Linked DNA regions of Homo sapiens: regions 2, 3, 4, 5 and 6 are each linked to region 1. Evidence: fine-mapped expression QTL. A gene starts in region 1. Each other region holds a variant in brackets. All regions are shown on one strand. Distances are between the middles of the regions.

Region 1 (5,149 bases):
ATGTAACCAGATGAATGGTTACAAAAGTCAACACCATTATCATATCAAATAGCTCTGATTTATAAGCTTTTTCATAAACACTATTTCTGATTTGATGTTGACTAAAATACTGTGAGAAATTTTATGATGTCCATTTTCACAGGTAAATGTAGCATCAGGGAACTTCAGTAATTTGGCCCAAAGTAACGCATATAGTAAGAAGCCAAGATGGACCTCAAATCCATGTGTTCCCCTTCTACAGTCTTATCACACTTTGCTGCTGTAAGATAAACATTTGTCAATGACCACCACCTCAATATAGATTATTCTACCAAACTTAATGCTTCCGTCTCATTGTCCACCATATCTTAGTTTTGGAACTGATAATACATGTAAATGATGCACACAAAAATTATTCCACACTCTCACAGAGAAACTATTGCTTCCTAGAGAGCCTCAAATTTATAGCTGCTCAGTCTTTTGGGGCCTCCTTTGAAATGTGAATCAGAGGGAGAATTTGGGTTGTTTTGGCCTTAACTGCTACCAGTACACAAAAGTCCCGTTACTCTATATCTTCTTTGTGTCAAATCCCTTGCATTACTGCTAGCTGCCTCCAAGCTTGCCAGAATCAAGAACTTGGATAAAATCTAGCTGGCGGAAATTCAATCCAGGCAAGACAAAAGTGATGCTGATAGGCAGAAGTATTTAGAGTAAATAGGGAGAAGTGCTGTTTCGCTGGCAATCGGGACATCATACCCACCAAACATAAACAGCTTTGTGGTGTTACTGGACTCTGTTGCTTCTGGACTTCTAACAGCTACTGTGGCTGGAAATGCCATCTTCCATCTCCAGCTGGCTTGAAGGCTGCATACTTTCTTCCAAATTAAGATTCTGCCACAGTGATGTACACATTTGTCATATCCAGCTGGACTACTATAATGCGTTCTAGCTGGTTCTCAATACACAAAACGACATAAACATTACAGACAACAGTGCAAAGTAATTTACTTGTTGGGAAAACTGGCCATCAAAATTAGATGCATGTTTGGGTCTTTGGACAGGCCCTGTGTCTGTCAAGTCTACAAAAGATCACTAACTTTATTCACTAAAGACTAAATTGCATCATAGGCTATAGCAAATCAATCAAATGCCCAGAAGTTTGTATGAATATACAAACAATGGATGACCCAAAAGAGAGAGAGAGAAAAAAACCATGTGAAAATCATAGAGTGGTGTAGACAAAGCCTTTGACTTTTAGTCATGGCTTTATTTGTCTACATGTCTTCCAAAACAAGACTTTTGACTTACGAGCCTGAATAAGTCACATTCAAACAGGTCAGCATTTATACACATCACAGTACATCTTCACTTATCAAAAAATAATTCATATCACATTCAATGTAAAGTCATCAGTAAAATTCGCCCTGTCAAAATGCTACCTTAAGAAAAATGAGTTTCTTCACTAACATGAAAAACTGAAACTAGCAACACATTCTTTCAATGAATTGTTTCTAAATTTTGATTCTCAAAGAATGTTGAAACTTTGATTAAAGAAAAAGGGTGTGTGTGTGTGTGTGTGTGTGTGTGTGTGTGTGATTGCAATTTACCCATTTGGGCTAAGACTAAATGGCACAAAGTGTAATGTAGGGCAAAGATTGGAAAACTTTTTCTCTAAAATGCCAGATAATAAATATTTTTGGCTTTAAGGGCACACAGTCTCCATCCAATTGCCTTTGGAGTAGAAAAGCAGCCACAAGCAATATGTAAACAAACGAGCATGACTGTGTTCCAATAAAACTTTATGAACACTGAAAATTAAAAATTGAAAAATCTGAAGACCATTCTTAGCCTGTGGGCCTGAAAAAAACAGTAGCAGGCTTGATTTAGCCCATGGGCCGTAGTTTACTAACCCCTGCTCCATGGAACTACATTAAATAAGAAAAACATTCAACACTATCACAAGCTAAATTCTTAGCTCTGCCACTGTTTTTCCTGGGAGACCTTGGACAAATTATTTAACCTGCCTCAGGTTTCTCATCTGTAAAATGGAGTTAATAACATTAGGAGCCTCAGTGGGTTACTCTGAACATGAACTGTAGTAATACATTTTGAAAATGATACCAACTGCACATAGTAAGTGTTCAATAAAAGTTACCTGTTAATACACATTACGATTCTAGAGTTAACTCCTTTTTACTTCAGTGAAAACATTAGAAAAGTAGTTCTTTTGTGTTTAAATTTTTAAAATTGTCTTAAAGTGCCTAGATGTTGTCTTCTCAAAGGAAGAAACTAGATTTGCCCAAAGAGGTCAAGCACATTTGGAAAGGGGCAAACGCACAAGGAAGCCTGCTTTGCAAAATCTGCCTAAAAGGCTAGCTCCATCTGAACAGACACCTACCCGGTTTCTGTCTTCAATTGTCAACAGTTCCTCCTCCATGCACTTATCCAAGACGTCTCTAACTAGAAGCTTGTCCACCAGAGTGGGCTGAAGGAGGTTCAGCAGTTGGAGATATTCATCATGAGCGTTCTCAAACGATGGAGAGGGCAAGTCCGTGAGCTCAGGGTTCATGTAGCGGGCGGCCAGAGGGCTGCCGGTTCTCCGGAGGGCCTCCACGAATTCCCGAGTCCAACCAAGGTGCCAGACTCCCTTCTCCAAGGTGCTCAGCAGCAGTTCAACTGCCTGCATGTTCCCGGAGGTGGCGACTGTCCTCTGAATCTGCTCCTTCACCTCTGCAGGCAGAAAGGTCAGGTAGTCCAGCACAGGCTCCACCTGGATGTACATTTTCACCCTGGCCCTGAAGCACGAGATGAGATAGCGGAAATTCTCGTCTGTGGAATACCCATTCGACATCTTTCTTTCTCAGAGAAGGGAGAGGGTTCTCCCAAGCAGATGGTGCTGTTGTCTGCGGGACAGGTGAAATGTGCGTGCCGCTGTCCGCTGCCCACTTAGAGAAGCAGGGTCTACCGCTCTGTGCCTGACAATGACGAGGTTGTCCACAGGGCTCTCAGGCCGGCGCGCGGGGCTGCACTCGCACCTGGGCAGGTGGGCAGGCGGGCAGGTGGGCAGCGGGGCGGCGCGCGGGGCCGCGGCAGGCAGGTGCGGCCGGCAGGCGCGGCACTTTGGACTCTGCGGTGTGCGCCTGGGGTCCCGGACCGGGGCGATCCTGCTGCACACTCGGGTAGGAGCTTTGAGTCCAGCTTTCTGTCAGGCAGTTCTTACAGAGTTTGCCTGACTTTGGTTTCTGTTTCGATTCTCTTCTCAGGACTTTGTAAACGTAATCTGCCTGGCGGGGAGGGAGTTTCCTCAGGGAGACGCCACCTTTTGGTCGGGGCGGGTGAAGAGAGGAGGCCTTTGGTTAAGGACACCGCGGGAAACAGAAAAGGAAAGCGAATTCTCTCTGACACCAAGACCAACGCTCTAGCAAAGCTCCTCCGGCGGATATTTTGTTTTCCCAGCAGGTTCTGCCTTAACAATAAGGTCCTTTGTAGGCCAAAATGTGCAGGGCATAAAAGCATGTGATTTGGGACTTTCCAAAGGGGAAGTGAACAGAAACTGCCACAGACCCGGACGTGAACAGGGAGTTACCCTCGGCTGGTGAATGTAGGCAGGCCTGGCTGAGGGTGGTGAGACTGCGAGGGACAGGTGAGAGATGAAGCTCAGAAGACATCTTTGCAGAGATGTGGAGAAGACAGGAGGAAGTCCTTCCTAAAATAAACCTGACCTCCTGTGGGTTCCCAAACACTAACTTGTTTCCCTGGGAATTTGGAGGTGGGTTCGAAAAAGTGAGTAACAATAAACAGTTAACTTTACTGCCTCATATTTAGATTGCTGGTATTTATGCAGCTTTGACCAGGACCTGGTAACAGATGTGGATGGACTTGAACCACCAACTCAGCTTAGAAGGAAGCCAAGACTTAAAGTTTCCTAGATCCCAGCTTGTAAGTTCCCTATATTCTTTAATATACAACTTTCCTTTAATAAAACAAAACAAAAAAATCCCCCAACAACTTATTTTTGATATAGCTGCCATTCTTTTCTTGGATTCAATACAGCAAGTTTTGGCTGGAGCAGCTAGGAACTTAATTAGCAACTAATGTACCAACTTGTAGTAAACATCAACATTTGTCTATGTCATGAGAGAAAAAAAACATATTCACACTGAAAAATGGCAGCTTCATTTTGGTACAGAAGCCACATAAATGTGAGTCCTTAAGGTTACTACTCATTCTGAAGGCATTCTGTAGCCACATGTGACTGTGGGTGGTAGGCACATACGCACCATAACTAGAATCTCATGGTCCAGAATTATATAAAGGATGGAGAGATCATTTAGGTTATCAAAGAGACATATTTAGGAAAAATAATCTGTTAGCAAAGTACATTCAATAAAGTCTGTGTAGGCCAGGAAAACCTGATAGTGCTTTGAACAGGATAATAGAAGTACAGAGTCTTGGTGAGTGTTTACTAGGGGCATACAAAATATCCAAATGAGCACTTTATGGTAACATGTCTTATTTTATTCTCTAATTATCTTATGTAGCAAGGCTTTTTCTACCCCTGAAGGATTGTAAGCTGCTTGAAGAAGGGATATATTTACATAGTAACTAGTACACTACTCACAACTGGTGGGCTCTTGATGACATCTCTCCTGGGAGTTGTATTTGAGTTGACCATAGCAGCTGGCATAATGTTAAATACACTGAAAGTTGAAGTAAATGAAACCTTGGGCTTGCAGGTAGGCCTGATTTATACTGTTCTTTTCTGTTTCTTCACAGAACCCTACTCCTTTTTCACTTAATTTTGGGAGATGACCTTGTACCCAGATAGAGGATAATCCAATTAGATGTTTCTACAAAAGCACTCAAATTATTAATTTTAAGTATTGGGTCTATGAAAATATCTTTTAAGGCTGTTGCAAAAACATACTCCTATCCCCCAGCTGCCAGTGGGTTTTATTCAACATGTTAAAGCACAAACTAACAAACCAAAAAACATTCTTTTTCCTGGCACTTATCCTTCTGTTTCTTGGTTTCAAACATGGGGGAATGAGAAGGGGTTGCTGACTGAATATGGGGAACCAGTTAATGTTATTTTCTTCATACCACTTAATTGTTGCTCTGGAAGAGAAAGGATCAAATGTTTGGTATTTGACCTGTTCTCAAATAATAA
Region 2 (5,149 bases), 24 kb before region 1:
AAATATTAATAGGCATTATCTTGAAATAGTAAGGAAACACTTTCTACATATCAGGCCAATATGTATTGCCAAAAACATTGCCACTTTTTGAGAGGCAATATATCTTTCTGAAAATGGGAAACAGAAAAAAAAAAGCCTCTCATAATATAATTAGAATATTTATACTTTAAAAGTACCGGTAATCATGTCTACTATGGCATAACACTTCCACAAAGGAATATAATATGATTGTTTTGGGTCACACCTTATGGCCCATATATGACCTCTGGAGGAGGAGGAAGGACATATAGAATGAAGTCCCTTTTGATGTCAACTTCAAAGATTAAAACACAATTGCAAATTCTATAATACTTTTCAGTGCCTCAATATGTGTTTAACAGTTCACCAATTTATCTAAACCTCCTTTTGAATTGGTTTCTATTTTAGCTTATACCAGGCACTTGTGGGCAAGGAATTTCATAATTTTACCATTTCGGAAATTGACTACCCACTAGGCAAAGTAATTCTTTGCTCCTAAGTACTGATCCATCTAGAACTTCAAGTGGTGTTCGTTCTGATGTGTTTGTCTTCAAATATGTATTTGCCTTTGAAAATGTATTTGCTTTTCAAAAGTAGATTGCGTTCAGACTTATCATGTGTTTCATGCCACATTGAGGACTAAAAATCAGCAAATACATTTGTTAACAGCTCTAAATAGGCAAGATGCCCTGCACATAGAAGGTACACATTAAATATTTATTGAATGAATGGATATTATTGAAAAGCCCTTACTTAGACAAATGAAAATTAGCATGATCTCCAAAAACTTAAAACAACCTATAATGATGTTAAATATTAGCTAGATTATCTATTTTGAGTTCTAGCATAGCATGTAATAGAAATGTTAATTATTAAATTGAACAATTTTATGACAAGGATAGAAAAAACAAATATAATCCACAGAAATAAGCACATGGCAAGAACTCAATAAACACTGACTGAATTGAACAGAAAATGAATTCACCCTTTTAAATGAAGATTAAAGTTGTGAATGACATTTGGTGAATTGGGTTTCCTCAAACTAATTTGTTCTAAGGGATTCAGGAGTGTCATTGTGATAAAAGGATATATGAAAAAAGAGGTGCTACAATCTAATTTGGAAAGCATTTAGGATTGATGACAATCTTTCTATAAACTATTTTGCCACCTTAGGCCTCTTGTGGATATCAATTTTTATAATTCTTCTGACAATGCAGGATAATCTGAATTATATAATATATTCTTAGGGGAAACAACTCAATCACAAATGAAGAATAAAGTAATGTGTTTCTTAATTTATCATTTTTCCAATGCTTCTTAGCTGGCCCCTTGCAAAGCATTTTATTTTTGTTTGTGATTTGTTCATTTTAATTGTGAAATACTTCAAACAGGTAGGCAAATATAGAAAGGTATGTAATAGAAACCCACTAACCCATCACCTACATTTAATAATGTTAACATTTTAGCTTAGTAGTCATCATGGAAATATACACTCAAAGAAAAGAAAGAAACAATTTGAAATCTATCAGACTAACAAATTGGAAAACTGATAACAGGAAGTAATAATTAAGGTGTGGGGAATTAGGAAGAGGCACTCTCATTTATTGCTGGTGGAATATACAACTGATATTGAAAGTAATTTGGGAAAAACCTGGTAAAATTTTCATTTAGTGACCGAAATATTTTGCCAACTCTACTCCTATTCAAAAGATACTTATACAAACTTGACTTCTTTTACTTACATATGTAATTTCTAGTTAGTCATACTTCTCTTATTGATAGTATCAATTTTTTATTTAAAAAGTATTTTAATTTAAAAAGTAGAATTTGGAAGTAAATAAATGTACCAAATTGAATACAGTCTATTTAAATGCAGTCAAATTAATTGAAACAGATCCCATAAATAAAATAGATGACATGACTCTATGGAATGTGGCATATGCCAGACCAGAAAGATATGTACTGGATCAAAATTAGAGAGTTTGGTTCTAAGAGTTTGTAAGTTACACTTTTAAAGAAAGTGAATGGCAAAGTTCCAAAACTATTTCACTGTAGAAAAGAATTGCTTTAATTGCATAAATACATTAGGGAGGGTATGAACAGCCCCCATGCTTCCACTATATGGCGTCTTATTTCACACTTTTTAAGGTTTACACAACAGTTAGGCAGTACCTGAATCACTTCCCATGGTGCCTGAATCACTGCCCATGTTGCTGTTATGTCCAAGACTTTCATCTAAGCAGCTGACACTTCCTTCTGCCAAACTTGTGTCTGATTCTGCAAAGGAAAACATTTTAAAATATTTTTAAAATATTTCTGAGAATAAACGTATTTTAACTGCACACCTCTACAGCACACAGTACATACAGTTCAATTCAAGTGGGGAAGGCACACCCAGACAATTATGAATAAAAGGTAAGCGCTTCTGGCAGGCTACATTAAGAAAAATCCACTATGGATGAGCAGCTGCTGGGTAGTGATTCAAATACATATTACCTACTTAAAGTACTACACATCCAGTATGAGAGCTAAAGCAAATTCCTAAGGGTTTATAACTTTTATTGCCCTTCTACATGTAAATGTTGCCCAAGAAAACACTATTTAGGTTTGATATGTCTTTTAAACAAAAAATAATACATAGAAACCTTTGAGGTCTTTTCATTTAAAATGATAGGGAATTAATAAAGTACAAAAATTAATAAAGTACCTGGATCTACTGATCAGTTATGAAAATGATAGTTTGGTGATAAACATAGATGTAAAATCTCAAAGAGAATTTGTTCAAAAAGAATATCACTAAAGCCTGGCATCACAGTTGTACTAGAAGCTCATGTGAGGTTGGAAATAACTGTTTTTCTTTACTATAATTAGATTAAGCCTCTATCAAAGAGTTATGGTTAATATGGATGAATAGCAGTGCACATCCTTCATTTATGAATCCTGACATTCTGTTTTCAGAACTCAGGATCAATTCTTTTTGAAAACCTTCTTTCCCTCAGAGAAGAATTCTTTTCTTACAGTTTATTTCCAAACACTTACACAACCTCATCCTCAAGCACCAGAACTATC[G/A]TTAAACTGGTAAAAATAAAGCAATGGTGGTTACTAATATTGGCTTTGGAATCAGAAGGACTTGCAAAATTTGCTATTCACTTTGCTCTGAACCTAACAAGTTCCCCTTGTTTTAAAGTGAGGCTAATCCCACTTACTTCACAGCCCTTGATAATCTTTAAGTAATATTAGGTACAACAAGCTCTTGGCACAGGACTTTAATTGCTGGCAATTAGAAAATGAAATAAAAATCAAGAAATGATATATTCTTAGGATAGGAGTTCCATTAGATAATGTTCTTCTTTTAATTAAAAATATTTTATAATATTTATACTTAGATAATATTTCATCCTAAAGCCTCTTAACACACCAATGAGGTAGCTCTTAGCTATTTAAAACTAGTCTGAGTGTCATATTTATGGCTGGAAATAAAAATGGATGAAAAAATAGACACATAGTATGTTTTAATAAAACTTCTCTGAAAAGAGATGATATACAACTCAAAACTGCAAATATTTCCTTTTTCCTTAAGTAGTTAATTTTTTCAAGTCAGCTATATTAAGATATAATTTACTTACTAAAAAGATTACTTTTTATGTTTATAGTTTGAGAAGTTTGACAAATGTATACAGTTTTGCAACTTTGAAGAGGTTGACATATGTATACAGTTACGCAACTACCATCACAGTTAAGGTATTTCCAGCACCCCAAAAGTCTCCTCAAGCCTCTTTGTAGTAAATCCCTCTGGTTATCTAATCTGGTTTCTGTTCCACATCAGACAACCAGTGGCAACCACTGATCTGGTTTCTGTTCCAATAGTTTTTCCTTTTCCAGGATGTCATATGAATGGATTCATGCAATATGTAGCCTTTATGTCTGTCTTTTAAAACTTAGTTTATAGTAATTGTGATTCATCTACGTTGTTGTGTGTATTACTAATTTGTTCCTTTTTATTGCTGACTAGTATTCCACTGAGAATCTGTGACATTTACATCTCCCATCCAATTTGGATGAGCCTATTTAGTTTAAGAGCTATAACAGAATTACAGCCAATGCCAATCAAATATGTAAGGTATCTTTCTTAAAAATTAAAAGTAAGCTGATAAGAAATTTGTAGAAAAATTCTCAATGGACATACATACTGTTTAAGTATATTAGCACAACATAAATATACTAATGTGAAAATACTGTGCTTATCAGTTGTCGCAGATTAGTTCTAAAACTCAGATTTGAGGAATCCCTTATGATCACACGGGAAAACCTGTATATCTCACTGAGAGATTTAAAATATGGCACCTCGCAATTCCCAGAGGTATGTCTTGTTAGAAGCTCAGAGGCGAATGTGGGATAGAACTGTCAAGTAGAAGAGCGTTTTGGGCAGATGTACTGATGAAAAGAGAATATGATTTGTAAGGAAAAGGCAAGGTGTAAAATGAGATGGGGAAAATGTCATTGCAAGAGTAATTCTAGATCTAGAAATATAGGCTAAGATTTTTGAGGCAAAAAAGTGAATTTTGACATGCTTTTCATTTGCTGTTTTAAATGTAATATTGAGAACTGAAGAGAATACCAAAATTACTGAAAAAATACTAACAAATATCTAAAATCTAAGACTGTATCATTAAATTTTCCAAGTATAATAAAAATGAAAATTATATTTGATTTCCACTTCATTTTCTAATCACTAGCAGTTAAACTTTAATCTTAAACCTACTTCATCTACATGTAGAGTCAAGATTTCTCCCAAGCTTTGTTCTAACATCCGTAAGTTTTGGGAGGGAGCTATTTATGCAATGTGCACGAATAATTGATGAATTGTTTTAAAAGTTGCTACCCAAAATAGGGTATTATTAATAAAGTCTATTATCTGGATTATTTTGATCTAACAAACCAATCACCAATGTGTCAGGAAGACACTGAACTCAGAGTTTTCACAGATGTAATGTAAATTTCATTTTAATCTCTCAACATTCTGTGTGGTAGATACATATTATCTCCTGTTTCATAGGTGAGAAACCAAGGCGCTGAGAGGTTAACTGATATATCCAGATCACACAGCTACAGTGGGGCAGAATCCTCATTT
Region 3 (5,149 bases), 49 kb before region 1:
GGAAGGAAGCCTTAAGCTACTTGATGCTGCTTCTTAACTGGTCTTTAATGGTACTTCACAGTTTTTAAAGTACTTTCCTATGATATCATTTAGTTGCAAAGACTGGGCAAGTGATGTAGGAGGCAAAGCTCTAAGATGGTCCCCACGATTCCCACTGGCTGGGGTGATTCCCTGAATAATCCCTTTGCGGTGAGTGTGGGCAGGACCTACGGATATGATGAGACAGTCACTTCTATGGTTACAGTTAACCTATCTAAGACTCCATCTGAGCAGACTTGAGAGAGAGATTCTTCTTCTGACCATGAAGAAGCAAATATCTGTGCTGGGAAAGAGGCTTGAGCATGCTGTGTGGTAGGGGCATTGCTGGAGCTGGGAGCGATCCCCAGTGGACAGACAGCAAAACAGCCATCTTAGTCAGACAGCTGCAAGGAAACAAACTCTGCCAAAACTCTGAATGAACTTGGAAGTGGATTCTTTCCCCAGTGCCTCCAGATGAGAACACAGTCTGGCTGACACCTCAATTTCAATTTTGTGAGACCCTGAGCAAAGAACCCTGCCTTTCTGACCAACAGGACATGTGTTATAATTAATGATTGTTGATTTAAGCCACTACCTTTGTGGCAATCTGTTATAGAGCAATAGAAAATTAATAAAAAGTAAAACTAGAGAATGTTATGACCATTTCATCGATAAGGAGACTGGTTCAGAAAGATGAACTGATTTGCCTAATTTTATTCTGAAAATTAGTGACAGAACTGAGACTGGTACTTTGGATTCTCATTTGTACTTCAGCATTCTTTCCACAGGACTATAATGCTCCACACTAATGAGAATTATTGGTAGATTTTCCTTACCTCTGCCCAACAATAAGATGGATAATGCATAATATATTGTGTTCTTAAAAAGAGTTCAATGCAGAGTAAAACAATCATTTTATTGATTCTTATGTCAGTTCTGTAGCATAATGAATACATTAATCATAATCATATTAAATGTTTAACTGATAGTATTTTAAAAGAATCTTCAATCAAGTGCTAATCCTCATCACTAAATAAACAGCATTCTGAATAGTCAAGATTGGGAAATGTGATAGGTAATTCTACCCACTTTTTGTATTGTTTCTTTGTTGAATTATTTTTGAAAACCACTACAAAATTCCTTATTTTGAGACAAGGCAAATCTAAGCCTTTGTGCACCATCATTGTTCCCCAAGCCTGGAAAACAAAAGAGAGAGCAAGAGGAAAATTAAATGTACATGCAATTAAACATTCCTGTTGGCTAAAGTAAAATCTGGCCCACAGCAATTTACTCACCTGGCCACATTTGCAGATGATTTCACCATTTATTTGATAGTCGGCACACTTCTTTTGCAGTGCTTTGTTTTCTCTTACAATGTAAAGTTCCCTATAAGTATCAAAGGGAAAGAATCATCATGGAGAACTGACAAAATACCAGTGTGTAGTTCATGGGTTATTGGACCTGGAGCTCATCCGCATGCCTGCGGTATTCTACACGGCATTCCTTCCTTCCCTCCTGCTTCCCAGGCTTGTTATTGCAACTAAGGCAATGCTTCTCTTCTACACATACCTCTCAAGGGGCATGTTGCCTTTCATAACTTCTTTCAAGTCTGTTGGTTATATTAACTTGACTTTAGTTGTTCAAAAATTTGAGAACAAATGATGAGCATACAAAAATACGTGCCTTGGATCAAAATGGCTTTGGTTCTTACACTTCTCTTTTCCTGCCCCAGTGCAGTTTATTTAAAACATAGACATTTAAAATAGGAATATAATTGAGAGGCTAAAGGAGAGGAAGTTGTAAAATAAATGAATCTCATTTGCACTATTTTGAAAGAACATTTACAATGCAACCTGCTTCACCCCTTGTGGAAAAATGTAAAAATGGGTCTTTCTGGACTCA[C/T]TTGAATTCTGGGGTCATATTGACGTGATGCATTTTCTCAATTACATGGATATCTTCCCCAGAACAGGCTAGCACACTGCAGTTTTTGCAAAGGAAAGTTATTAGTGATGGGTTATTCTTGTAATGCTTGGCAATATTTCTCTTGGTTTTCATTTTCTTTTCCATTATACTTTGCATCTGTAATTCCAAAATCTGGACAGAGAAAGGAATAGTTAGTGGTTTCAGGTTTGTTTTCTTTTTTCAGTTTCATAGAAGTAAGTCTCCTGAAATTTGGAGGTCTTAGTTGTGAAAATATACCCTTAGCTTATGGTCTAGGAAATAAAAATAATGAGGTAATGACCCCCCAAAGAATTTGGTATATAATCATCTCCTGTAACCATGAAAATGTGCAGTCTTCAGGTATTCAAAAAGTAGCCCATTCCATTTCAGAAAAGTTCTATTGTGAGAAAGTCCTTAGCAATATTCAACAAAAATTCTCTGTCTAGCCTACCCATTTGTTATTTATTTATTTATTTATTTATTGAGATGGAGTCTTGCTCTGCTGCCCAGGCTGGAGTGTGTTGGTACTATCTCGGGTCACTGCAACCTCCATCTCCTGGGTTCAAGGGATTCTTCTGCCTTAGACTCCCAAGTAGCTGGGATTCCAGGCACCTGCCACCATGCTCAGCTAATTTTCATATTTTTAGTAGAGATGGAGTTTTGCCATGTTGCCCAGGCTGATCTCAAATTCTTGATCTCAGTGATCCACCTGCCTCAGCCTCTCAAAGTGCTGGGATTGCAGGTGTGAGCCACTGCGCCAGCCTACCCATTTGTTTTAATTCTGTTCCATAAAATAGGTCTAAACTTCCTTCCACATGGAATCTCTTTACTAAACACTGTTATTACATTACCAAGTCTTCTCTAATCTATGCTAAGCACCCAAATGCCTTTAATCTTTTTTCATGCTTTATAATTTTCAGACCCTTCACCATCTTAATCAGTCTACTCTTTACACATTTGTAGCAGAAACCACTAGTTTTTCATTCAGTGTCCATTTTTCCTAACAGAACCATAATTTTATTCTGGGTGGAAATATGCTAGCTAAATGACTACATTTCCAAACCAGCAGTCAATGACATGTAAAAAGCTGTTGAGTGGAATTTTCAGAAAATCTTCTTAAAAATTAGATAGCTGGCATGTGTACCTTTCGCCCTTTCCATTCTCCTCTTACTTCCTGCCTAGAATGAGGATGTGGCAGCTGAAATTCTAAAAGCCATCTTCGACCATGAGAATGAAAGCCCAATGCTATAACAGCATAAAAAGGAGAGAAAAGGCCTGGATTCCTCATAACTTCATGGAGCCAATACTGCCTAGATTCCTTCTGTGAGAGAATATGCCCATCAACCTCTTTATTCTATGCTCTGTGACTAGCAGCAGCACTTATTTTATAATGGAAATAATCTAGTTTATGTAACATATGAAAGTTGACATAGGGACTGAACAGTGTTTATACCAACACAACTTCACGGTAGAAAAATCTGGTTCTTGAATAATTTACCGCCAAACTGACCTCTCATAGATGACATATTTATATTAAATTATGGAAGAATTAATTGTTTTCTTTAAGACCGAGGGAGAAATTTTCAGTAAAAGTAAGTCATCAGTGCAGTTGAACAAAGCCCATCTCTTTGGCTTCTAACTCTACATTTTAGATCTCCCTTCAAGGCAGCCATATATAGCATAGAAAAGAGAATAAAACCTTGCAAGCAAGCCTGGAGGCTATATAATAGATTAATCAGACAAGTACCAAGATTAATTTCCTATGTAAATTATAGCAAAATAATACACTGAAATATTTTTCCCTAAAAGTTTTAATAGGTTACTTTTATAAGACATTTACAGTTCAATGAGCTGATAAGGTAATTATAGGATCACATACATGTGGGAATTAAGAAATGTGTATGAATGAGTCAGAAAAAAAATAAAGCCAAGGTAAGTGTATGGATTTGTAATCAGGACATCAGAAGCTAAAAGACTAACTCTAAAATAGTAAAGGAATTTGAAGTAACTAGAGGGGTAAACAAACAAAAAAAAGAACTCATAATAAATATACAGGAGGCACAGCTACAATCAGCCTAAGTCCAAATAAAGTGTAATAATGTAGCAAAAAAATTGAATCAATGCTAGAGAAAAACATTTATGATGATCAACTTGCTCCTAGAAGTCTGATTTAATTTTAAGAAGCTCTGTTATGTTTAAACTGTGTTTATGACATGGAAGAAAGATTTCATCTTATCTGTCAATTCTCATCATTCATTAGTGGTTGTCTGAAGATTGTGTTGAGAAAGATGCTCAAATTAGAAGAAAGTAAACATCTTCCCAGTAGCAATGTTTTCTACAGGCTTTGAACAGATTACTGGTGGCATGTAGCCCTCCTTCCCCATTGCCACTCCTACTCTAAGTTCATCTACCTGAAGTAGTTTTAGGAGGGCAGGTTTCTTGGCCAAAGGAGACCTAAAAATATAGTCCATTCTGGGGCACCCAAAGGGACAGAGTCTTATTCTAAAGAATGTCTGGAAGAATTTGACCCTTAAACTCCAGAGATTGTCCTAGTGTTGACCCCCAAAAAACTACTCTTAAAACATCAGTCTTTGTAAACATCTACTTGATTAATTCTCTTAGGACATTAACTGGGAGGCAGTAACTTTCCAGTGGCATAATTTGGTGACAAAAGTTTGATTTGATACTCTAAAATATTTGCTTTGCCTTGTATTTAAAGGGGTTTTAAAATAAAGTTTTGTGCAGAAACCTGGTCAGGAAACCTTGGAGTTGGTAATAGCAATGCACACCAATTTGAAAGCATCCCTTTAGTGAAACTCTATTTAAGGTAGAGCCAATTCCAATGTTAAGAAACTAACATTCACACCCATATGCAAGGGTGTGAATTTTCTTCTAAATGGATTGTTTGCTATTATAGTAGTTACAGTTTTTAATTCAGTGGTATGGGGGATTTCCTGAAATACTATAGAAATACATTCTTTCTTCACTGCATTCCTTTGCACAACTCAAATAACTGTGTGTTAGTAAATTGAGATGTAGCTAGATGACATATTCTGTATTTTCTTATCATTCAGATGCAGCTTCCCTGTCACTCCTTCTAAGAGACCTTCCTCAACCACCCAGTTGAAAGTATCCATCTAGTCTATGCAGCCATAAAAAAGGATGAGTTCATGTCCTTTGTAGGGACATG
Region 4 (5,149 bases), 240 kb before region 1:
CTTTGCTGCTTAGAAATTTTTGCCAGATACCCTAAAGAATCTCTCTCAAGTTCAAAGTTCCACAAATCTCTAGGGCAGGGGCAAACTGCCACCAGTCTCTTTGCTAAAACATGGCAAGAGTCACCACTGCTCCAGTTCTTAACAAGTTCCTCATCTGCATGAGACCACCTCAGCCTGGACTTTATTGTCCATATCACTTTGCCTGTTACCAGGTTCCAAAGTCTCTTCCACATTTTTGGGTATCTTTACAGTAGCACCCCACTCCTGGTACCAGGTTACTGTATTAGTCTGTTCTCACGTTGCTAATAAAGACATACCCAAGACTGGATAATTTATAAAGGAAAGAGGCTTAATTGACTCACAGTTCCACATGTCTGGGGAGGCCTCACAATCGTGGCTGAAGACAAATGAGGAGCAAAGTCACATTTTCCATGGTGGCAGGCAAGAGAGCTTGTGTAGGAGAACTCCCCTTTATAAAACCATCAGATCTCATGAGACTTATTCACCATCATGAGAACAGCATGGGAAAGACCTGTACCCCATGATTCAATTACCTCCTACTGGGTCACTCTCACACCATATGGGAATTATGGGAGCTATAATTCAAGATGAGATTTGGGTGAGGACACAGCCAAACCATATTACAGTGGATCTTTCTTTGTCTCATAGTCCTCAGGAGGAACCAATCCTGTGATGTATTGATTTTGGACTTATAGCTCCTAGAACTGAGAGATAATAAATTTCTGTTGTTTCAGCCACCCAGTTTGTGGTACTTTGTTATAGCAGCCCTAGTGAATGAATGAATATACTTGATCCATGATCATGCTTTCAGTCTCTACAGGATCCCAGTAGCAAGAGAGATGCCACTTTTTAAGTAGTGAATTGTCACTGGTTATTGTAGGCAGCCTCCAAGATGGCCCCTAAAGTTTTGGAAGTAATTTATTATGCAACAGTAGATAACTAATAAATTGGCAAAGAGTATATGACTTTTCTCTAAGAGTCATATATCTTCTGTGATTCTCTCACTGGGTTTTGCCAGAGGCTTCATACAGTGTCTCCGGCTGCCACATACATTTTAAATAAGTATTGTGCTTGTTAGGTCATAAGATCCAAGTACAACTTGCACTATAGCCTAAACATGCAGAGCCTTCTTTTGCTTCAGGATCCATTCAAAACAGGCAGCCTTTAAAGTTACTGAGTAAATGATTGGAGAAGTATAGCCAAGCATAGTATATGGTGTCTCAAAAATCCAAAGAGTTCTGGCAAATAGTGCTCCTCTTCATGGTGGATGTACAAGGTGTAGTGACTTGTCTTTCACATTAGAAAGGATACCTTGACATGTTCCAGACCACTGAATCCCTTGAAACTCTGCAAATTTTCCACGGATTTTATTCTCTACCCTGTGTCCACATTTGTCTTACTAAAGCATGTAAGGAACTTGCTACTTCTTGTTCATCAAGTCCATGTAGCATAGTTATCAATGCAGTGGACTAATGTGGGTCTGTGGGATGGCAAGATGCTCAAGGTCTTGGGAGATTTTAATATGACAGAAAGCAAGACTTGACATATCCCTGGAGTAAGATAGTGAAAATACACTGCTGTTCCTTCCAGGTGAAGGCAAAGTATTTTAGATACTTCTTACTAATTTGACTCAAGGAAAAAAGTGTTTGCAGGTGAACAGCTCAGATGTCCATGTTGTTTGATTCAGTAAAGTTAAACATCTGAAATGGCAACTGAGTTATTTTCCATAATCCATCCTAGTTTTGCACAAGCTAAATGGGAAAGTTAATTAAGTATGGGATGGGGGAAATAGCACCTCTGCATCTTTCAGATTTTTACGTAGTGGCACTAATTTCTGCACTTAGAGATGCAGTATTACTTTTAGTTTTCCATATTGTTGTGCAGGGACAGTACCAGGGTCTTCCACTTGGTCTTTCCTATCTACCTTAATGTCCCTTCCTGGGTCAGGGGATAAATGAGCAAAGAAATGTAGGCAGGCTCTAAGAGCTGGGAAAAGCAAAGAAATAGATTCTCCCCTAGAGCCTCCAGAAGGAACAGAGCCTTGATGATGCCTTGATTTTATCCCAGGAAGACCTATTTCAGACTCTGACTTCTAGAGCTGTAAGTTAATAGATTTATGTTGTTTTAAGCCACTCAGTTTATGGTAACTTGTTACTGTAGCAGATGGAAACTTAACATAAAGCAGGACAACAGTGATCTTTTTAACTCCATCAAAATTGGCATAAACCCAGGGCCCATATTTAATAACTCCAGGGAGGTCTGAGAATGTCCCTTTTCATGGGGCATTTTCAAACTTGGCTATAAGTCACATGTCAGGTGTGTACTGTGACAGCATTTCAGAGTCCCTCCTGAAAAAGATCTGACCTCCATTTCAAACAAGGTTTTCTGGGTCTATTAACTGCTTTGAGTCTGAGAACTTGATGAGAGTCCATTTATTACTACTATGAAAACTTAAGTCAAATTTCTGCCCATTACACCTAGAATTCTTTTGATCATTTAAATCAAGCTATAATTTAGAATGCTACCTATTGACTTCATTCTTAAGTATCTCGTGATAAATGAGCCACCACCATAGAAGTCAAAAGCCCTGATTATCATATTGTTCCTGCCACTGTTTATGGCAATATCCCCTTTTGAGAACCTGAGTCCTGGAGTTGGGGTTACCTAGGGTGAACTCTAGCCTTGGAGGGATACAGCCACTGCCAGATTGCAGCACAATAAAGCAGATAAAAAGCTTAAGGAGTAAATACCTCAGTCTCTTTCTCTTCTCTCCCTTCAGTATCTTGCTCGTTCCTCCCATCTGTTGAGCCCAATAAAGACAGAGGGCTAAGGAGCCTGGCTAATAG[C/G]AAATGTATATTCAGGGATCAACCTGCAAGGCTGTGCAATGCAGGGAAGAGAAGGGTGGAGAATGGATAGAGGGAGGGGGAACTTGAAAAAGAGCCACATAACCAGGCAACTCCATATAGTACTTATTATTTGCTAAACTATCTCCTTATGGAGACTGGAAACATTCCCTTTATTCCTTTATCTTCTCATCCATCATTCTCTCCAGTGCCTAGTAAAGTGCCTTAAATATATTAGCAGTCAGTAACTGTTGGTTAAATAAATTAAAAAATGAAATGATAACTGAAGAAAAGTTAAGATCAAATCTTTCTCTGTGTTCTTGGGGGCTGCAACTAGAAGACAGAAAGAAATAGGATCTCATATGTGGAGAGATGGCAGGGTGGAGGGTGGGGAGGTGAGGAGTGGTGGGGAACAGGGATGGAAAGGAACAGATTTACTTCTTGCCCTCAGTTCTGAAGGTTATGTAAAGGACAATACAAGGGTACTTATTTGTTCCTTTGATCAGTGGACATTTGCCCTCCACCTAATCAGAGAACGCTGCTCTACCTGTGTGGGAATGACTTCCTGCTGCCTTAGTGCCAAACCCCACATTTCATATCCTTTGGACTGAAGATCAAGTCTCACATCTTCCAGGTTATCTTCACCGTCTGTTTCTGTTTTATTTTCTCTTTTCCCTACCAACCATACTTGAGAAGATTACCCTGCTTGTGTTCCAGGTTGAACCAACCTTTAACAAAATTTATTTCTACAAAGAGATACGTATTAATAGATGACAACTAGCTGGCTAGATCATCCTATGGATTTTGATAGATGAAAGGAAGTTTCAGGCCCAAGGGATAACACACATAAGGGCTTGAGTAAGAAAGCTGGAAGATCTTTAGGGAATATGTATTACTTGCATTTTGCCAGGATATAGAGTATTCCAGAAAGTATTGGGAAATGAAAGTTGGTCATGAACATATTCTTGTCTTAAGTTCAATATTCAGTATATACCAAGGAGCCACTAAAATTTTACCTGGGAAAGAAACCCAATCAGACTTATACTTCAGATTTAAAAAAAAAAAGGCAATAGTGTCTGTTGGATGGAATGAGAAAGGGAAGAACTTAAACTGGGGGGAGAGTCAGTAAACTCTTGGTCTTAGAAAATTAATTGGGTAAGTGCCTCTCTGCAAAGTTTGTTGTACAAGCATGTAAACCATGCTTATTTATTCTTGTTAAAATATAACTCTAAAAACTTTTTCTCAGCTATGGTCATGGTGCTTTCCTTGCCCCAATTATCAGTAATACCAAATGAGGGATTGTTCTAGCACTCAGCACTCCGTAAAGGAGTGCTTTTTCTACCTTTCAGACTAGAACCAACCCAAGGGGTAAGGGCACTTTTGTGCTCCTCTTTGGATGGTATCCTTTGGATATTCTGTGGGTTTTTTAATTTGAAGAATTTGCTTATATTAGCCCCTGACTTAAGAAAAAAAATATGACTTAATGAAGAGAACGTGTTTGAAACCCATGGAGCCTGATTCTCACAAAGTGTCTGTAGCTACAATGATGTCTCCTCCTTAGTGTTCTCCAAGCTGTGAACATGGGCTAGATGTGGTGGCAGGGTAGGGGAGCCAGAGATCACCTCCAACCCCCCTGTAGCTCTTATGTAGCTCTTCTAGATTCAGCCATAGAGCTGAATCTAGAAACCAAATTGATATCAGGCAGATTAACAAGAGAAAAGTAAACAGATGTTATTGGTTTTTCATGTACATGGGGATCTTCATAAGAGACTGAAGTCTGAAGTGGCCAAAGCAAGATACTTTCATACTTTTTAGACAAAGAATGACAAATCTGAGAAGAAATCACAGGACAAAGGGAATCTGACTAAGAGCAGTACATTTCTAGGGGAGTCACTAGGAGATACATGAGGGTAGGGTGTAAACCTACTGGAAGATAAGGACTACTTCATTAAGTATGTTTATTCAGGTTCATTGCAGCCTCCTATCACCAGTCTCTGTTGACAAGGGCTATTTTCTTGCTCCAGTAAGAAAATATTCCTCCCACAGTAAGAAATATTTCTATTTTCTTGCTCCAACAAGAAATATTCTTCCCAGAGGAATCTATGGCTTGCCACAAGCAGGAAAAGACAGGCCAACTAACCCTTACTGAGGCTACAATTCTCCCAATGCTTTCAACTTGAAATAATCAATATACCAATTTGGCATATTTTGGGATGCCATGTCTTTCATTCCTTCATTTCCCCTGTCTGAAACTTCACTAGACGTTTCCAGCATTAAAAGCTGAG
Region 5 (5,000 bases), 100 kb before region 1:
AAAATACGCTTCTAGCATATTCCATCAAAATTAGTCGAGCCTCTCACAGACACAGTAGTGATTTAAAGAAATATTTTTAGCCTGAGTAATGTTGACTATTATAGTCCTGATATATTTCCAAACAGACTCATATGACTTTTTTCTTGCAAAACATAATGTCCTAATTTCTAGATGAAATTTAGTGATTTACTTTGTTTGTTCTGTGCTTTTCTTTTTACTTTATAAAATATGATTATTCTATATTTGTTTTAATGAAACATTTCTTCATAATTAGAAGACTCACAAAATGTACCCATCAAATATCCTATTTAAAGAAAATATTTTGTATCTCTTAGATTCTAATGTGAGTAATTAAGAACAGGCTTATTTTAAAGCTTATACATTGGTTAAGTGGTTTTTCTGACTCATTAATTCAACAGATTATGTTTGAGTTTGAGTAATAGAAACAATTAAAACTCAACAATAAATCTGTGCTTAGTTTTAAAGGCTTTTTCTGCCCAAAATTAGTACATGTCGGGTACTGTCCTAAGATAACCAGGTAACAGAATAATTTGATCTAATATCTTATGTCACATTCTCAGTAATTCTCATTTGATTTTAAAATAAAAATATTTGGGCTGGGTGCAGTGGCTCATGCCTGTAATCCCAGTACTTTGGGAGGCTGAGGCGGGTGGATCATGAGGTCAAGAGATTGAGACCATCCTGGCCAACATGGTGAAACCCCGTGTCTACTAAAAATAAAAAAATTAGCTGGGCCTAGTGGTGCACACCTGTAGTCCCAGCTACTCAGGAGACTGAGGCAGGAGAATCGCCTGAACCTGGGAGACGGAGGTTGCAGTGAGTCCAGATTGCGCCACTGCACTCCAGCCTGGCGACAGAGCGAGACGCCATCTCAAAAAAAAAACAAAAAACAAAAAAACAAACAAAAAAAACAAAAAACAAACAAAAAAAAAAACAGAATATCTGGCTTTCTTTTGATAATATCCATTTCCTTTAGAATTTTTAATTTTTAATTTTTAACATTGAATAGAACATGCCCCATTTGCATTTCTTCTCTGGTTCTTTTGTTTAAAACATATATATTTATCTAGTAGACCCATGTTTCGGTTTCATCTGCATTATTTTGCTTTTTATTGGACTGCCAATGTTATAATCTCAAAGGGCTGGTTTACCATTATAATTGAGAACCAGATATCTGATTTTCCCAATGTCATGTTGTCCCATTTTTTCTTTTTGGCTATTCAATTTCAAGGTTTACGTCATTCAAGAAAATAAAAGGTATCCTATTTATTTAATAAAATGATGGACCCATGAATACTGAGTGTGTTTTTGCAAAGCAGTTGGCAGTTGAATGCAGTAATCCTGGCTTTACAACATAAAATGTTAGCTATGGATGAGTCCCCACTATTGTGCCTTGATCTTCAGAAATACGTATCTGTGATCTTAATATACCCTACCTTTGGACAATCCCATGTCTGCCAGTCTTCCCTGAAGTCACATATAGACAGGACCGAAACATTCTGGACTCTTTTTAGCCACTGCAAACATACTCGTTCATCAGTAACCCACGTGAGCCAACTGAAATAATAATCACTGCAAATAAAATAGAAACAGGTAGTCACAACCATAAACCAGTTTCACACACAAATAATTTCTTAATTTTTGTTTTCTAAAGGATATATGTCATTATTATACATTACTTATTTAATAGGTAAGCAAGACAAAACATTCCTTTCTCTGGAGAGAAAGTTTAAATATCTCTACTTACTTAAAAAAATATCTATGAGAGTTTCTTCATCTAATGAAATCATTTCATATGTGAGTTTTCTCCCCGTTTCTGGATTTTAACATTTTAGAAAAGAATTTAAAACATAATGTCAAAGCTACTGATCAATCTAGAGGGGAAAAAAAGCATTAAACTTGCATTTTGCACAAGTAAACTCAATTTTTCACCTTATAATTAGTTGAGAGAGAGACAAGTGTGATAAAAGGATAATCTTTGTCTCTCAGCAGATTCATGTTGGAAGCTAAGTTTTAGCTGTGACTGTGGTCAGGTATTGAAATTCAGACTTGTGGAATAAATCACAGATGATGTATGCGAAATAACTCAAATAATGTTTGGCACATACTAGATGTCAGTGAATGGCAACGATGATTCCATGACTCTGAGCATGAACTAGTAGGTAGAGAACATCAACATAAAATGAATCACAAACTTCTGGAAAATTAATGTAAAGGAAATCACAAAGCTGGAAGGGACCTCAGGCTCAAATCCTGGCTTTATGTCCTAATAGTTATATACCTTT[A/T]GGCCAGTTACTTAACTCTTCTATTTTTATATAAAATCAGAATAATAATATTACCTATTTTAAAGAGTGCTGTAAAGATTGGCCGCGTGCTTAAACCGCTTAAGAACTATGTCTGCTACATGATGAGTGTTCAGAATACGTTTGCTACTACTATTTTATTGTTAGTATTTTACAGCTGTTCAAACAAGCCTCTGGACTCCTTGTGTTATGCTCATTTCATCTGCCACCTGTGGAGAATGACACTTTAAAAAAAAATGATGTATTGAGTCAAGTTTTCATCGACTCGATCAGGGTGGGGAATAGCAGATAATTCAAAAATATAAAGTCATGTTTGATTATACAAGAGTGGACTCAGCAAGGCCCAGTAGAAGCCTCTCATGGGGTTCTTTTCCCTATTAGTGATCAGTCATTTGAGCTTGGCTCTTCTTCGTGAAGCAGAAGGGGAAGACCCAAGATTGGCCCGCTAGGCATGGGGAACTGTTAAGAAAGCCCAACAGGCAGGGCCTGGGCACCTCTTCCCCTTAGCCACTTCAACCAGAAAGACCACAGAGGACTGACTGAAGGTCACTGTATTCTGGACTAGTCAGACAATCAGACATAGGGCATCATGCTGGGGAAGTGAGAATCCTTCACGTCCCTGCCTGCCTACAGTTCATCTCTAGACAATTCTAAAACCAGATAAATGAGAATAGCCTGCTTCATTGTGAAAAATGCTAATTTTTGGAGAGGGTCAGCTTATCTTCTCTTATTTATCATACACATGTGATCCACATAGATCCACAAACCCTGGCTTGAGATAAAGTCAGCCAAACTTGAAAGAAGCCAGGGTGAGGACGTACATGAATTTTACTGTCTGCTTGTTGGTCCCAAGTTCACATCTGTACATCTGAGGCAAGTTTCACTGAGATTGATCACCGAGGTCACGTTTATATGTGTAAAAGGGCTAATTTTGAAAAACCAATTAAGGAAACTTATTTGTCAATTTTAATTTTGTATGTCTTTAGCTTTGTGTGCAACTCTTATCTACTTATTTGTTTTTGCTTCTAGCATGCACAGCATAAATGCACTAGAATATAGGATAGAAAGATGGGAGGGATCTGAGATGAACTACCTTGAGGCTATCATTGCTGGAACAGGCACTTCCTGGGGACCTACATACGCAGGGTAAGTGGTATCGATAATAAATATCCGAACAACGGGATTCTTAGCTCCAGCCTGCCAAGAAAATTGAGATATATAAGCTCATAAAATTCCAATTATCACCAACATTTTAAAGAAACTTTAGGAATTTAGATATATTTTTCTAAGCGAACAATCTTATGTATATCACTGTGGAATACATTCTATTTATAACACGACAAGGAATCTCATTTCAATTTTACCTGCAGGGCAATTACAAATGTTGTGTCAACCAGAGCAAAACTATGTGTTTTAACTGCCTAATGAGAGAGCTTTAAAATTTATAGGGAAAATCATTTTGGATATGAAAATGCAGTTCTGTGAACCATATTCTGTTTTCTGATTTCCAAGACAGATCTCTCTCATTTTTATTATTGGGATAATTATAATAATCTGTATACCAAGGAGAGTTCAGAGGGTGATTAATTTGAGAGGAGAATGGAAAGAAAAATAAATGAAAGACACTTTTTGCTTTTGCCATATGATTTGGTCTAGGACAATCACCAAATGCTCAGTCTCCTACCTGCTTGCATTATTACTGCCACCATCTCCAAAAGGTTAGGGAAATTTCACCTCCAAATGAAGTATCCATGAGATTTATACTTTTCTTGTTTTGTGCTTTCTATACTACTGTATGCTTAAAATTTACATGACAGTATAGCTCATACCTAGACAGTTTCTTAGAGTTCCTCTGTTATTTTGCTGTAGAAAGAGAGAATCTTGGAGTTGTAATAAAATTTAAATTCATGAAATGTAGGTGCACAGTATGTAATGACTCAGTGCTGTTTGAATTCATCCAAAGAACTGTTCAACGTCTCTTAGGACCTCCGTTTCACTCCCAAGTTTATCAGAAACTCCCTTAGTTTTTGGGATGGTCTCACGTCTCCACCTAACGCCAGATGTTTTAGCAACCTTAAGCCTCAAGGAAATATGAGAATGTGGGTCCCAACTTCCCAATCAGTGTCAGTCACTCTTCAGTTCTGGGTTCCCCGTCTCTTCCTGCTCCCATAGGTCCTCCCAAAGATCTGAGTTCTTTTACATCTTGGGTTCCCCCAAAATGTGAGGCCTGTCCCAAACATCTCCAGCTTTTAGAGTTTTTACACAGCTTTTAGACTTTTAACATAAATATTACACTGTCTGCAATTCTATTTCTTTCTCTATGGCCACTTTGGCTTGCTTAGAATTCACTTGTGTGTATACCACATCCAACCGTCTTTGTCACCCAGGGACCCACTGTGTCCAGCCACGACAATATTCCCCTTGGCAAGTAAAAGCAATAGCATCCAAAGAACAAAGAAGTGAATTCTAAAATCGCATCCGATTCCTTGTGCAAGAGGTAAATTTGTACTTTGATTCCATTTTTTCTGATATCATTTTTACATTGAAATTAGGATATAATGCTTCTTCACTGAGACCTGACCATTCTCCTACTGCACACTCAGGTCTCCTCCCTCCAGATGTGAAACTCAATAAAAAGAATGTATAACAACTCTACAATGTTAAATATCCAAAAAC
Region 6 (5,149 bases), 40 kb before region 1:
GTAAATATATTTTGCATAGTTCTAGTTATAACGAACACATTTTTGTGGGAGTTTGAATTTTCCACTTGATACTACATGGCAATCATTTCTGAACTTTGTTGTTAAGCTTACATGTCACTTATTTTTGCAAGGGAAACTTAGAAAGTTCTTCCAATTATTATGTGGGAAAAATGACTCCTAAAACAACACTTAACCTCTCAAAAACCACAGATTTGATTGCTATTAGCCTTAGATTTTATTTCAAGAACAGGTGTTTTATCCTGTAAATGTATTCATGGGTGGTGAGAGGATTGGTAGAAAAAGACTAAAAACAATTTGAGAAGAGTAATAACAGCATAAGAAAAGAAGTCCAGGCTGAGCGCAGTGGCTCGTGCCTATAATCTCAATACTTTGGAAGGCAGAGGCAGAAGGATGGCTTGAGCCCAGGAGTTTAAGACAAGCCAGGACAACATAGTGGGACACCTTTTCTACAAAAAAGATAAAAAAATTAGTTGGGTGTGGTGGTGCACACCTAGAGTCCCAGCTGCTCAGGAGGCTGGGGCTGGAGGATTGCTTGAGCCTAGGAGGTCAAGGGTGCAGTGAATCTTGATCATGCCACTGCTCTTCAGCCTGAGTGACAGAGCGAGGCCTCGTCTGAAAGAAAAGAAGAAGAGAAGAAGAGAAGAGAAGAAGAAAAGAGAAAGAAAAGAAAAGAAGTCGTCCAAAAGGATATTTATACCTGTGTCATGGGTTTGAACTCACTGCTGTGTCCAGCTCCAATCAGATGGTGGGCTTTGACTCCTACTTCAGCAAATTTTTCATTTTCAGTAATCCACTGGGAAAGCGCATATGCACTCTGTCGTGTTTTTGTAAAGATTATTCCTCGTGCTGATTCCTCAGTCCTAGTATATTGCTCCATTATGGTATTTCTTAATTTGGTCAGCTTTTCATTTTCATATTCTGGGTTTTCAGCCAGCCTTTTCAACATTTTATTGTTTTCTTTAAGAAATAATTAGAGTTGATATGTTAACAAGCTTGATTTAGCCACTCCACAATGTACAGATATATCAAACATTTTGTACACCAAAAATATACAGTTTTATTGATTAAAAATTAATTAATTTAAAAACTATTTGGAAGTATAAATTAGTAAAACATACAACGAATTACACTAGAAGGTTTCATGAATTGTGGCTCATCTACAATCTTGCGCTATATCTAATAATTAGGATGGTTTAATAAATAAATTCATTACAATTGTCTTGACAATAAAACTGAATGACCAAATGACTGACTGTGATCATACAACTGGTAGCTAATCTGGTCATATCATTAGAAATAGTTCCAATCTGAGTGGGATTTCTTCTTTCAAAAGATATTTCTCTTTTTGGAGAGCTTATGAGAAGCAGTAAGTTCATGTTGAAAAGGTAAATGAATGACACCAGTATATGTTACTTTGAATCTTACCAAAAAATAAAGTCATGAGAAATCTATCTGTTTCATCCAGTTTCAAAGGTTTCTTTAAATCATCCTCATCTTCATCACCATCACAATACTCATCATCACCACCCTCATCACTATCATCTTCTATGACTGCAAACTTCTTATCTTTCTCTTCATTATAGAAAGTTTCAAGATGAGTATACGCATCTATCATTCGAATTGTGTCATTAATTTGTAGGGCCTCATTGTACTTCCTCAAATGTTCTGCACAAACACGTTCTTTGCGATTTCCTTCTTTTGCAGCTGTGAAAAAATATATTATGTAAGTGAAATAATAAGCATATAAACCCCCTAAAATTGTGCCATGGACTTGAATATATGTTACTAACTGCAAAACTGGCTTCACCTTGGTTTTAAAATGGGCAAGTTAAGGCTCAAAATGTGTCCTGAGCTCTGAAACAGGGCAAGTTTTCCAACTCCTAGACTTGCTGCTTGAGTTCTGCCTCAGCAAAAACATGTAGCTGATGCACAGAGAAATGGCATGAAAATATATTAGTTGAGTTTGCCTTTGGAGACAGAGCTATTAAAGTTTATCTCAAGACTCTGGAGACAAAGAGAAAATTGGATAGCATTGGAATCTCTCTCCTTAGAAAAGGAATTAGAACATGTTTATTATGCTTGTCCTACAGAGAACACAGAAATTCTATTTGGAACTACTTTTGCTTTCCATTTTTTGGGGAATCTGTGATATAGTCATCTAAAATCTTGGTATAAACATGGGATAAACTAAGTGTTAGGTCCAAACCTAAATTAC[C/CT]TTTTTTTTCCATTTGAATGGCCCATTGTTCATAGGGTTGAGTTCCAAAATCTGACATTGGACTCATTTGACAATAAGTTTGAATCCTTGTCATTATTTCTAGAAGTTTCTCTTTAAATGGATCCTAAAAATAAAGTACACACTTATTCTTATGTATTCTTATTGTTAAAGGAATAACATTATCTTTGTTAGAATAATTTCTAGGTTATAATAAATCTGATTCATCTTTGTTTAGACAAAGTAACAGGTTAGTGTCCCATCACTTGTCTGTACATTTATTTTTGTCAGCTTCTCTTTTAAGCCTGCCATCAAGCCACACCCACACCAACACCCTGTTACCTCTGCTGGAATCTCCAACTTAAAAGGTTAACAAAAGTAAAGTTAATGAATTATATAAACCTTGTATGTTAAAGGTAACTTAGAAAACACATATTGCATTAATGCCACAATTATTTAGAAAGCTTACAGTGTAATTTAAGAAACATTCCTCCTTTGTAAAACTGGTTTCAGTATTATTTCGACCAAAATAAAAAGTTGAAGTAGAGTCTGAATAAAGCCAGAAATAAAGGAGTGCATGCTATATGATTCCATTTATATAAAGTTCAGAATCAGTGAAAACTCATTTTTTGTTTTAGAAGTCAAGATAGTAGTGATTCCTGGGGCATGGTGACTGGAAGGGGGAGCCAGGAGCTTTTAGGATACTGGCAGTGTGCTGTCTCTTGATTTGGATTTTGTTTACATATGTGTATTCAGTTTAGGAAAATTCAGCAATCAGTACACATATGAATTTGTACTTTTCTGTATGTATGTTATGCTTCAAGGTATATAAAAAAATTAAAGTAAGTTTAAAAAATGGCAAATTCTTTTAAAAAATGTACCTGAGAAATTTAGTTTTAAAAATCTTTATGAGTAGAAACATGCATTTAAAATTATCAAGTAAAACCAAATAAGTAACAAAAAAAGGAAAGTGAATAAAATATATTCAACTGTGCTAGTGCAGCTGGAGTAGATAGCAGTCTTTTTCAGAATTTAAAAAAAGAGATATACGGAGGCTAGTTACTAACATTGGTTTAGTGCCTACTATATTTCAAGCATTGTTTTATCTACTATGCATATTTCATATCATTTGATCCCAACATTCTTATTTTCAATGGTATTATCAAGTACATATGGCCAGAATTTGTAATGCTTTCTAAATTTTACAAAATAAAGTATTGACATAATTTACTGGCCATAATGTCCAAATTGACTCTCAGTTTATTCTTATAATTCCTGAAAAATTCATCAGAAAAGCATCATTAAAGTAAATATTTCACTTCTTTACCATTGCACTGTTTTCCTAAGAAAGTAAATATGCAAGTATGCAAATTAGATAGGATTCCCATTATCATTGCCAAATGTAATTTGATAGCAACAAAATGGCTCTGTGGAATGTCAGAAAATCAATCCTGGAATTCACGAAGAAAATTAAAAAGGCTAAAACGAACTGTCATAACCCCTCCAGCTTAGTTACACATCCCTCTGCCCATGGCCCCTCACTGTCCCTTTTAACTCATATGTACAAACAATGAATAAGCTATTCCTCATGTAAATTAGAAAACTAAAAGAGGTCTAGAGGCGAGAATTCACTGTAGTGCTTTACTGCCTAACATCAATTAAAAAAAAACCTGAAACTTGTTTGCTAAAATTTTTAAATAATATTTTTCAGATGGTCAGTATAAAATAGCCTTTGCCATCTTTCTACTGAATGTAGTATTGTCAATCAATAGATATAAAACATTAAGCCCATACTTCTCTGGTTGCATCTGCAATGGCAAACTTCTTGCATGGCTCCTGTATTTGGTTTTTCAGTTGATCAAGGTTTTCTTTAACAGTTTTAATAGTAAATGCATCAAGATTGGCACATAGCTGGAAAAGAGACATTTTTCAATATTTATGCAATTATTTTTCCCTTTCACTTTATTCAACGTAGAACTCTTTTTCATGTAAAAAATATGTAGCATTAAATTGTAGCATAAATATGTGGTATAAAATTTCATGAAAGTAATATGTAGCATTGCTTGCTAAATATAGCATTTTAACATTGTTTTATTATGGATCTCATTAACCCACAATCAGCAACATTTGTCCTAATATAGGAAAAAGGAGCTTCTAAATCAAGTTGGTGTAATAACAGAGAAAAAGGTGTATTGATATTCATTCCTTAAATTCCATTTTCCAAGTGGAAAACTGACATGGAAAGAGTATAACAATTTACCATCATTGACAGAGAATGATTTTGAGATAACCATGTTACATGAGGCATATCAAAGGTCAACTTGACATCCGTGGATCATACTACCACCTTCTTCTACACATAAAGCAGGCATCTACACATAAAGCTGGGAGCATCCTTAGTCATGTTCCTTGATTATTAGATTGGAATTAGTCCTTAATCCCAGTAATAAATTATATTTTGGAGCCTATAATTGCATCTCTGAATGTTGTGTCTACTCTACATAATTTGTATTGAATTCAACTTAAAGTAAGGGACTTAAAATTCAAATGCAATTGCCTTGGTACCAAAATACTTCTTGGGCTACTCTGATTTACTTAACACTCAAGATTAACAGTAGCACTGTATGTGGTGTTACCATTAGGGGGCAGCTGACAAGCTCATCTTTAAAGATCTTCATATCCCTATTTCCCTTTAATTTGAATTACCTAGATTCCTAGAATAACATATGAAGGACAGAAAATACGCAGTTTTGAAACTCATGGAGTAAGACTTTATTATGTGTGACAACTAGAAACTTTCATAGTTTATGCATATTTCTATATCAGGTAGATCATTAAATTTAACCATAAGAGTAGATGTTCAAAAGAAGGCATTCTATTTATCTCAACTTCCCATTAATTATATCACTCTCCATC

Evidence for each region.
Region 2: its variant is fine-mapped to the expression of IFIH1 in nasal epithelium (TOPMed, PIP above 0.99).
Region 3: its variant is fine-mapped to the expression of IFIH1 in whole blood (INTERVAL, PIP above 0.99).
Region 4: its variant is fine-mapped to the expression of IFIH1 in whole blood (INTERVAL, PIP above 0.99).
Region 5: its variant is fine-mapped to the expression of IFIH1 in whole blood (INTERVAL, PIP above 0.99).
Region 6: its variant is fine-mapped to the expression of IFIH1 in whole blood (TOPMed, PIP above 0.99).

The regions. Positions count from the first base shown.
Region 1 is chr2:162,315,478-162,320,626 of GRCh38, forward strand. It overlaps IFIH1 (interferon induced with helicase C domain 1), which reads right to left and starts at 3,207. Exons shown (of 16, transcript NM_022168.4): 1 at 2,378-3,207. The coding sequence starts at 2,830. It also overlaps a transcript of GCA not described here. RefSeq lists a silencer at 3,002-3,091 and enhancers at 3,122-3,671, 3,240-4,439.
Region 2 is chr2:162,291,374-162,296,522 of GRCh38, forward strand. It overlaps IFIH1 (interferon induced with helicase C domain 1), which reads right to left. Exons shown (of 16, transcript NM_022168.4): 4 at 2,191-2,295. Among named protein-coding and RNA genes, the nearest start is that of IFIH1, 25 kb to the right of the region's middle. The variant G/A (reference allele first, on the strand shown) is at 3,088.
Region 3 is chr2:162,266,166-162,271,314 of GRCh38, forward strand. It overlaps IFIH1 (interferon induced with helicase C domain 1), which reads right to left. Exons shown (of 16, transcript NM_022168.4): 14 at 1,922-2,112; 15 at 1,314-1,404; 16 at 909-1,214. The coding sequence ends at 1,035. Among named protein-coding and RNA genes, the nearest start is that of FAP, 25 kb to the left of the region's middle. The variant C/T (reference allele first, on the strand shown) is at 1,921.
Region 4 is chr2:162,079,447-162,084,595 of GRCh38, forward strand. No RefSeq gene overlaps it. Among named protein-coding and RNA genes, the nearest start is that of DPP4-DT, 7.2 kb to the left of the region's middle. The variant C/G (reference allele first, on the strand shown) is at 2,868.
Region 5 is chr2:162,212,481-162,217,480 of GRCh38, forward strand. FAP (fibroblast activation protein alpha) reads right to left here. Exons shown (of 26, transcript NM_004460.5): 10 at 3,418-3,521; 11 at 1,458-1,593. Among named protein-coding and RNA genes, the nearest start is that of FAP, 28 kb to the right of the region's middle. RefSeq lists an enhancer at 1,632-1,801. The variant A/T (reference allele first, on the strand shown) is at 2,307.
Region 6 is chr2:162,275,969-162,281,117 of GRCh38, forward strand. It overlaps IFIH1 (interferon induced with helicase C domain 1), which reads right to left. Exons shown (of 16, transcript NM_022168.4): 8 at 4,028-4,144; 9 at 2,237-2,360; 10 at 1,447-1,725; 11 at 719-978. Among named protein-coding and RNA genes, the nearest start is that of FAP, 35 kb to the left of the region's middle. The variant C/CT (reference allele first, on the strand shown) is at 2,237.